Linked DNA regions of Homo sapiens: region 1 is linked to region 2. The links come from fine-mapping of genetic effects on gene expression. A gene starts in region 2. The other region holds a variant in brackets. All regions are shown on one strand. Distances are from middle to middle. Region 1 holds the start of LOC105378498 (a long non-coding RNA gene). Region 2 holds the start of HSPA12A (heat shock protein family A (Hsp70) member 12A).

The links. PIP is the estimated chance that this variant, and not a neighbour inherited with it, causes the effect. A credible set is the group of variants that fine-mapping cannot tell apart.
Region 1: its variant is the best candidate, but not a certain one, in a credible set for the expression of HSPA12A in unexposed skin (GTEx, PIP 0.86).

Annotation. Positions count from the first base shown.
Region 1 is chr10:116,772,925-116,777,304 of GRCh38, reverse strand. It overlaps LOC105378498 (a long non-coding RNA gene), which reads left to right and starts at 3,305. Exons shown (of 3, transcript XR_946339.2): 1 at 3,305-3,753. It also overlaps a transcript of HSPA12A not described here. RefSeq lists an enhancer at 1,930-2,429. The variant C/T (reference allele first, on the strand shown) is at 2,213.
Region 2 is chr10:116,740,029-116,744,408 of GRCh38, reverse strand. HSPA12A (heat shock protein family A (Hsp70) member 12A) reads left to right here and starts at 1,843. Exons shown (of 12, transcript NM_025015.3): 1 at 1,843-1,979. The coding sequence starts at 1,940. RefSeq lists enhancers at 570-1,273, 1,274-1,978 and a silencer at 1,529-1,978.

The sequences.
Region 1 (4,380 bases), 33 kb before region 2:
TTATTTTGGTTGCTTGTCAGTGTGACAGGCCATGCCTGAGCTGTCCATGTAAAGTTCCCAAGGGGCATAAATGGGAGACTGCAGTGCAGCCTCAGATGTGGGGGGACCACCCAGTGCCACGCGGCAAGAACTTAACACCCGGGTGTTGACGAGGCAGGGAAGAAAAGGGGCGCATCTGCAGCTCAGCGCCCCTCCAGCCTGGCTGGCGTCTCACACTACTCATGTCAGAGAACAATTCAGCGGGCTACACAGGAGCCATGGTCCACCCAGGAGCTTTCTTACAACCTCCTTCCCCTGTGCATTGCTTCCTTGATGCTTCTGCAGTAAATCAAATTAAAAGCAAACTTGAACCAAGTCCAGGTTGTCAATATCTCCCATTCTCGAACCTAGTCCAGATTCCTGGTACAGACATTAAGCATCTTATATGATGCCTCACATCCCTAAATTATCATATTTGCATCAAACTTTTAAGGATATACATCTAAAATACATTCTGAAATAGTGTTTATGATTCTAATTAAGATTACATTAAGCCCAGTTTTTAGAGTTTTAAGCATTGTATATGGAGTTAACAATTAAGAAAATAAAACTCATGTATTTTTAATTGCTCTTATATTTTGATGCTCTGTGGCATCCACTGAATCAATGGCTTGAGTACTTCAGGGAAGCGGTGGATTCTGCTACAATAATAAATTCGTTGTTCACTTTGACGATCAAATTAGGCTTTCCATTTTGTTTTGTCTTCTAGGCAAAACAATAGTCTTGAATGCCGGGTTTTGTTAAGAAAAAAAAAATTTTCTGAATTCCAAAGCTTCTTTCTAAATATAAGGAATCAATCCCGGCTGATTTTGAGCGTAGAGTTTTACTGTAAGCCATAAATAGAAGGAATTCTGGATACAATGGAAGTGAGTTCCTGGGAGACAGGAAGGCAGAGGAGAAAGCACTATGCTTTGCCTGGGAGAGGTTTGTTGGGGGTGAGACCAGCGGGAGGAAGCGGCCAAGAGCTGGAGGCTGCTTTGAGCGAAATCCCGAGGCAGAGGGGGGCGTCCAGGCGGACGGACCTGAGATGCTCCTTGTTGTCCACCCATGACACCTGCCTGTGTCCCACAGGAGTCCCAGGGGTGGGCCACAGAGGTGCTGAGGCAGGGAGGGGGTGAGGTGGTCACCCAAAACAGGGACCTGGGAACCAGGAGCAGTGGCACTTGTCTTGGGTACTGGGGGGCAGTCAGCTCAGTGGACAGAGACCAATGGGATGGGTCACTTAACTGGAGGCCAGAGGGGACGCAGAGGATGGCAGGTAGACCCAAAGCCCCTCACTCACCACCAACGTGAGGCCACATTAACTTCTTTTATGGCACTCAGCTGCCCCCAGTCTAGTCCCTGGTGGAGTCACATAAGAGAGTCTGTGCCAGGCTGGGGACCACAGTAGAAGGCATAGCTCCCCAGCTGCAGGAGCCCTCACAAGACCCCAGGGACAGAGAGGTCATAGGGGCTGCAGGATTAGGCCAGGTCACTGTCTCGGGGAGGAGTTGGGAAAGGGCTTGAAAGCCCCCTGTTACTTCTGTGCCCTGATGTCCCCAAATCCTCTGGCCCCCTGGCCTGAGTGTTTCCTTTAGCAAGCAAATGAAATGGCCCCAGCACCTTCCCAGCATCCGAGCACTGAGGAAAGTCAGGGCTCACCCAGCACTCCTGTGGGGAGAGGCGGGAGGTCCTTCTTCCATCCCCTCTCATCGGGTGCCCTGAAAGTCAGTATCACGAGGCTGTCAGTGGGAACAGACAGAACTGACCAGGAAACAAACTTCACGGTCAATGTTAGATTTCCTGTTTCTAGAAAATACATTGGCCATTTCCAGCTACAGAGACTCCCTTCCCAGGCTGCCCACTGGCTGGCCCCCGTCCTCCCCAGGGCTCTCTAGAAGAGACAGTGTGGGGTGACAGAGAGAGCTGGCTTTGCAACCGGACAGGCAGGAGTTCAAATCCCAGGCTCCCGTCTCACTGGCTATGTGGCCCTGTGTGACCCTGGGATCTTTCCTTCCTGAGTCTCAATTCATCCATCTGTAAAATGGGAGTCCTGAGGCCCTATCCATAGGTTTGTGAGTGGTGGGATAACTGATATAAGGAACTCGCACGTTCTTAGTACAGAATCAGCACTTGGTAAATGGCAGCAATTGCTGCTATTGGCTTCTGGCCCAATCCCTTGGGGGCACCTGTG[C/T]CAGGTGTCTGGGAGGACACTAATAAAGAGTGACTCAGCAGAGACAGCCACAGGATGGGCGGGAGGGAGCAAAGGAATGCTGGAGTCCCCCAAAGCAGCACAGTTGGGAGCAGTGGCGGTGGGTGTGTAGCAGTCGACCTGGGGCCCTTGGGGAGGGAGTGGAGTGACAGGATGCCAGCTGGACCTATGCCATGGCAGTATAGCCAACACGAGGGGCTGGTGCAGGAGCCGGCAGGACTGGGGCCTGCAGGGGCCAGGGTGGAGGGCTCCAGGCTTGTGCAGCCTGCAGGGTCAGGGTGGAGTCAGGCCAGGGCCACGTGGGCAGGCATGGGACTGGGGGAGGAGCTTATTCAATGGTGGACCTGGGTTTTCTGGTGGGTGAATGAAGGGGTGCACAGAAGGCCTCCCTCTCAATGTCCCACTCTCCAATCCTTTCTCCTAAGAGATGGATCTGGGCCATGAACTCCTGCTCCAAAAGGCCAGTCCTCTAGCAGAGCCACGTCTGTGAAGAGACCCAAGAGCACCATTGACATTTCTTTATTCCAGGGGTTCTCACACTTTGGCAAGAGTGTGAGATGTGCAGTTGCTGGGCCCTACCCAGAGTCTCTGGGTCAGTAGATCTGCCTTGGGGCCTGAGAATTTGCATTTCTATTAAGTGCCCAAGAGTTGTTAATGCTGCTGGTCAGGGACCACACTGGTCAGGGACTGAACTAGGCATTGGTGCAGTATCACCTGGGACCCTCGCAGAGTGCTCTATGGCAAATATTTCAAAAAAGCCCTTGCCGGCCGGGCGCGGTGGCTCACGCCTGTAATCCCAGCACTTTGGGAGGCCGAGGCGGGCGGATCACGAGGTCAGGAGATCGAGACCATCCCGGCTAAAACGGTGAAACCCCGTCTCTACTAAAAATACAAAAAATTAGCCGGGCGTAGTGGCGGGCGCCTGTAGTCCCAGCTACTTGGGAGGCTGAGGCAGGAGAATGGCGTGAACCCGGGAGGCGGAGCTTGCAGTGAGCAGAGATCCCGCCACTGCACTCCAGCCTGGGGGACAGAGCGAGACTCCGTCTCAAAAAAAAAAAAAGCCCTTGCCACAGAGCAGGTTCCCCCACCCCATGTCATAGTGAATGCCACTCAAGACCAAAGAGGGTAAGTAACCTACCCAAGGTCATTCAGCTGAATGGTGGCATAGTTATCATTTGTAATTAGGTCTCCTGGCTCCAAGTCCTCCACCCCGTCACCATGATAATGACCATTGTCAGCATCATCACCATCATCGTCATCATCATTACCACAGGCACTGTGAGCTCCCTGTGGGCTGTTTTGCAGCTTTGCCCCTGCCCAGGACCAGGGACCAGCCAGAGCTTCATAATTGTCAGCTGAGTGGAATCCCTTCTTGGGGCAAGTCAGTGAGAAAGACTTTCTCAGGCTGCAGTTGACAACCCTTGGCTGAGGCCCCCACTGTGAGCTGGGCAGGTTGGCCAGGGAATAAGGAGGAGGAGACTGCTTACTTAGCATCAGTCAAGGTTGAGGGGCCATGGGCCAAGGTGAGGTTCAGAGGTGACAGAAGGGAGGCAGAACTGCTCCCTGGTCATGTTACCTTCTCGAAACCCGCTGGGAGCTGCGAAGGCAATTGTCACTCTCCAGTCTGGCTTTGAGTGACGCACAGCTCCCAGGCCTCCTGTCCTGTCTGCCCGCTAGGCTGTTGTTGCCTGGGGGTACCAGACCAGAGCTGAGGGTTCTGAGAAGGAAATGCAATTTGCTGTTGGTGTACCAGGCCTTCTTCTGTGCTACCATGTACTGCTCAGTGGACTGAAGCCTTTGCTCATTAGCAGGGCCTCATCCCAGGCCAGTTCATCCTGGGCCTCTGGAGGGGCTGGGGAAATGCCTGGGCCCACCTGGGCCTGCTCTTGCCTCCCTGGGACCTTGCCTGCTGTGCAGAGGAAAAGGAGTGGGAGGAAGGAGGGCCCAGGGGGAGTCAACGGGAGCAGCTGGGGCTGCAGTTGTTTGGAAGTCCCCTGGCTCACCCAGACTTTTAGTCTAGCTAGGGTCCCCGGTCCTGACTGAATGAGCCCCTTCTCAGAAGAACCACAGGTGGCCAGGTGCAGTGGCTCATGCCTGTTAATACCAGCACTTTGGGAGGCCAAGGTGGGAGAATTGCTTGAGACTAGGAG
Region 2 (4,380 bases):
ATGTCCTGATGCCCTGGTCTGATGGGGAGGAACGAGTGCCTTGAGGACACTGAGGAGGGCCCCCCTGGCCAGCATGGGTATGCAGGGGAGCCTTCCTGGAGTTGGGCAGTCCATGATGAGAAGGAGAAGTTCTTAGGTTGCTGGTGGTGGTGAAATGAGAGGACGGGTGATCCAGGCATCAAGCACATTTTCATGTCTTTGAAATACCAGCATAAGAGAAGCAGGGGTGGGTGAGAGGGATTGAAGAATCAGAGCGGCTGTAGCTGGAGCTGGAGTAGGGTGGGGACAGACCAGATCACAAAGCATGGACTGAAGGGGTGAGACAGGAGGGCGGGGGAGCTGTGGGCAGGCTGTCGCAGGCACGTAGGCAGGAAGGGCCCTCGGGGGCCATCAGTGACTTAATGATTTTTACCATGTGCTAGATCCCAAGCTAAGCATGTTACATGCATAGTCTATCTAATCTTCAGTTTTATGAAGTGGGTTCTCCTGTTATACCCATTTCGCAGATGAGAATATTGAGGCTCAGATAGGTTAAATAACTTGACTGTGGTTTCATGCACAGCCAGGAACTGTCCATTTGGGATTTTTAATGCAGGCAGACAGAAGACAAGTTTTGTGTTTTGAACTTGTCACTCTGCCATCACCTTCTGGTCTCCAGGCTCTCGCAGCAGCTCTCTGCCCATTCCGTCATCCATAACGCTCTCGCAGCAGCTCTCTGCCCACTCCGTCATCCAGAACGGGATTGTACGATGAAGCCTCCCCTAGGTGATCTTTGGGAAATGCCACCCATCTCTGGAAGTGAGGGATGCTGGTGGTTACAGCTGGGTGGGAATCCCAGCTCCGCGACTCACCTGCTGGGTGTGATATTGTAACCCTGCCGATCCTCAGCTTCCTTATCTGCAAAATGTTAGTTATGGGGAGGAAAGGAGATAGAGGTAAAGCACCAGGCAGGTAGCACAGTGCCAGGCACCCGGAAACGACCCAGTGACGGTGCTCCTCGGATTCCTATTACTGCCCTCGTTTGCCAAGGCAGGGTGGTGACACCGCGGACCCAGGGGGTGCCTGGCCAGGCCCAAACAGGTGCCAGCGGCGCGTGTGTGTGGAGGAGCTGGGGACAGGGAGTATGAATCATTCACAACTGAAGCCTTGCATTATTAATATCGTTATTCTCAGACTTCTAAGGAGGGCCCAGCTGGATCCCATATATGGAAGGCGCGACTCAGCCTCCGGGGCAAGCACCTCCCTGGGTCCGGAGTTGCCATGGAGTCCCGCAGGCGGCCTGGAGGCGGTGCCCCGGGCTCGGCCCCCGCGCAGGTCCTTGGTCTGCGGCCTGGGTCCTGCCCGCGCCGGGGTCCACCCAGCCCGCCTTTGCGCCGGCCCAGGGCCGCTCCCCTGGGACCCTGGGGGACAGACAGAAGCTGGTGGGGACTGGCGCGGGCGTCCTCGGGAGAGCGCCGGGCGCGCTGGGCTTGCTGAAGGGCTCCAGGCCTGGCCATTCGGTGACTTCCAAAGAGGGGACGCGCCGCGGGGCCCCGAGGGCCTGAAATCCGCTCCCGCAGCGCAGCCCCGGGCGCGCCACTACCCCCGCCGCGGTCGACTGCGGGGCGACCGCTCGGTCCCGAAGCCGGGAGAGGAGAGGCCGGGCCTCGGCGGGCCGCTCTGGGCGGGCGGGGAGCGCAGCTCCGGAGCCAGGCAGTTCCCCGCGCCCGCCTTCCCCGACCTTTCCCGGCCGGCCCGAGCTCGGAGGGGCGGGGCGCCGGGCGGGCCGGGGCGGGGCCCGGGGAGGAGCCGTGGCTGCGGCGGCTGCCGCGTCAGAGCAGCGCTCCCGCTGCCCGGCGGCTCAGACACGGCCCGAGCGCCGCCGCGGACGCGGACAGAGACCCGCACGGGCACGGGCGCTGCGCTGGAGGCTCCCCTCGCGGTCCGGGGCTGCGCGACCATGGCGGACAAGGAGGCCGGCGGCAGCGACGGGCCCCGAGGTGAGCGCAGGCTGCGGGTCCTGCGGCCGCGGCTGGCGGGGCAGGGAGGGAGGAGGCGCGCTTGGCCCAACGCTCCGCACCCCCTCGCGCGCCGTGGAAAAGTGGGGACGCCCGCGCTGCATCCAGTTCTGGCGGGCGGGGCCGGGGTCAGCAGCAGCGGGGCCGGGGGCCGGGGTCCGGTGGACCGGAGACGGCCCGCGGGTCACATGTTCTGCGCCCCGCCAGGGTGCGGACTCCGCGGCGGGGACTGCAGCCCCCGCTGAGGCGCCTGGTTGGTCCCTGCCTCGGGTGGCGCCTCCTGCGGGGCTGGTCGCGCGTGCGGGTGAGGACCGCCCCGCGTGTGCAGCCCCCGCGCGATGGGCTGCGGAGGCCGGCGCTGGCTGGGTAAAGGGCCCGCCGCCGGGTGGCCGGGTGGCCCCAGCGGGTAATTTTCGTGACTCAGCGAGGCAGGAGTGGGAGCCTGGGGGAAATCGGAGATTTGGACCTGTTCCCTCGCCCCATCCCACCCCGGCCGGACGCTCGAGCCAGGAGTGGGGGCTGCAGCTGCGGCCGAAGGGCTTCTCACCCACCTCCCCGCCCATCCCCAGGGACTCACTGGGCTGGGGAAGGGTGAAGCGGCGGGGGTTCGATGGTCCCTTCCTTGCGGGGGGCAGGGGGAGGCACCCAGTGCGGAGGACAGACGCTCGCATTTTGCAGATGTGCTAGGGCCGCTTTCTTTGGGGAGCGTGATTAGGGCTCCGAAGGGTGGGGGAGCCGGAGAGGACGGGGAAGGGGGTTGCGGGAAGAGGACGAGCAGGTTTCGGAGCCCAGGGCTGTAAATCAAGGCTTCTCCCACGGAGGGCCCGGCTGGCCAGGATTCCAGTCTTCCTGTGGGTCCCAAGTGGGGAAAGTTGGGCGCATGGAGGCGCCGCGCGTCCCTGACCTGCAGGGCCTCGGCGAGAGCGGCCGCCGGGGAGAGGAGCGCGGCCCAGGCATCTTTCCCGGGAGCGACAGGCAAGCCGCCTGCGAGGATGATATTAAAATGCCGGGACGCAAGGGAGATTCAGCCACGAAACGAGCGCTTGGCTCTGCGGGGCCCCAAAAGCTGGAGAAACTGAGTCCAGTGGCAGCACAGCCACCATCTGCGCTGGGTTCCCTGTCTTGCTGTCGGGCCTGCGGCCCCCACCCTCTGCTGCACTCCAAGCCGCACCTGCCCCCACCCCAGCCCATTGTTCCTGCGGATCAGGGAGGTGCCTCCCCACGCGGCACTGCAGTGGTGGGGGAGTGCAGGGTGGCGGGTGGGGGATCCTGACAGGGCTCACTCCAGGGAGAGGCAGCGGAGAGCCCAGGCCGTCCCCAAACACACACCCAGTCCCCGCCTGTACTCTTCCTCAGCTGGTGAACGCAGGCAATGGACTGGCAGCTGTCTTTGTCTGAACATCACTCAGCAACTGGATTGACTCTTTTTTTTTTTTTTTTTTTTTTTTTTACTTTTTTCCTTTAAGTCAGAAAATAAAAAAATTTTTAGGACGATAAGTAGGGGCGTTGAATTGCTAAAGCCTGAGAATTACTGAGCCAGTTTCTTGCCTCTCATGCTGGGATAGGGTGGGCGATGATACCAAATACAAGGTTGGGCATAGGATTTGTCAAATCAGAAGTGGGCAGGAATGTGTACCCACTCCCCACACCTTTCCCAACACTGTTTTGTCTTGTAAATCAAATTCAGCACCCCTATCCTAACACACACACACACGCACACACACACACACACACAGACACACACACACACACACACACACACACACACACACACGGTGCTGGGAGAAATCCTGTCCAGGATGGGGACACCCATACCTGGTGTGCCGAGCCACCTGCCACCGCTCTTCTGCGTTTGTTCTGGAGTATTTGTTTCTTCACTTCCAGTCATCTCCAGCTCAAGGTGGCCAGTGAGAATTCCAGGTGCATGGACTTAGGACAGAGACCAACCTGAAGAGCGGGCTGTCCCTGGCAGCTCACTGTGCCTCTGGGCACCTCTCCCTTTATCTGTAAAATGGAGGATGTGAATAGTATTGCATAGGAGCAGAGTTGGCTTGCCCCTGGCCCCTACACTTATTTCTAAGGTTTCCTCATTGCTGGGAAAAGAGCGTGCATTATTTTATTGTTTTAAAGGCTCACAACAAACCTGTTACCAGCATTCTCCCCTTCCTGGGTGGGAAATCCAAACACAGGTTGAGTGACCTATCCAAGGTCACACATCTGGGAAGTGTTGTTTGGGACCCAGGCCATCTGATTCCAGGGCACCAACCTGTGCATACAGCCCTTATGCATGTGTGCAGTGGTTACCACTCTATTAAGGACATAAAAAAATGGTTGTGCTTCCTGGGAAGGATTTCCAGAATGTTTTTGGTACAAAAGGATGGGT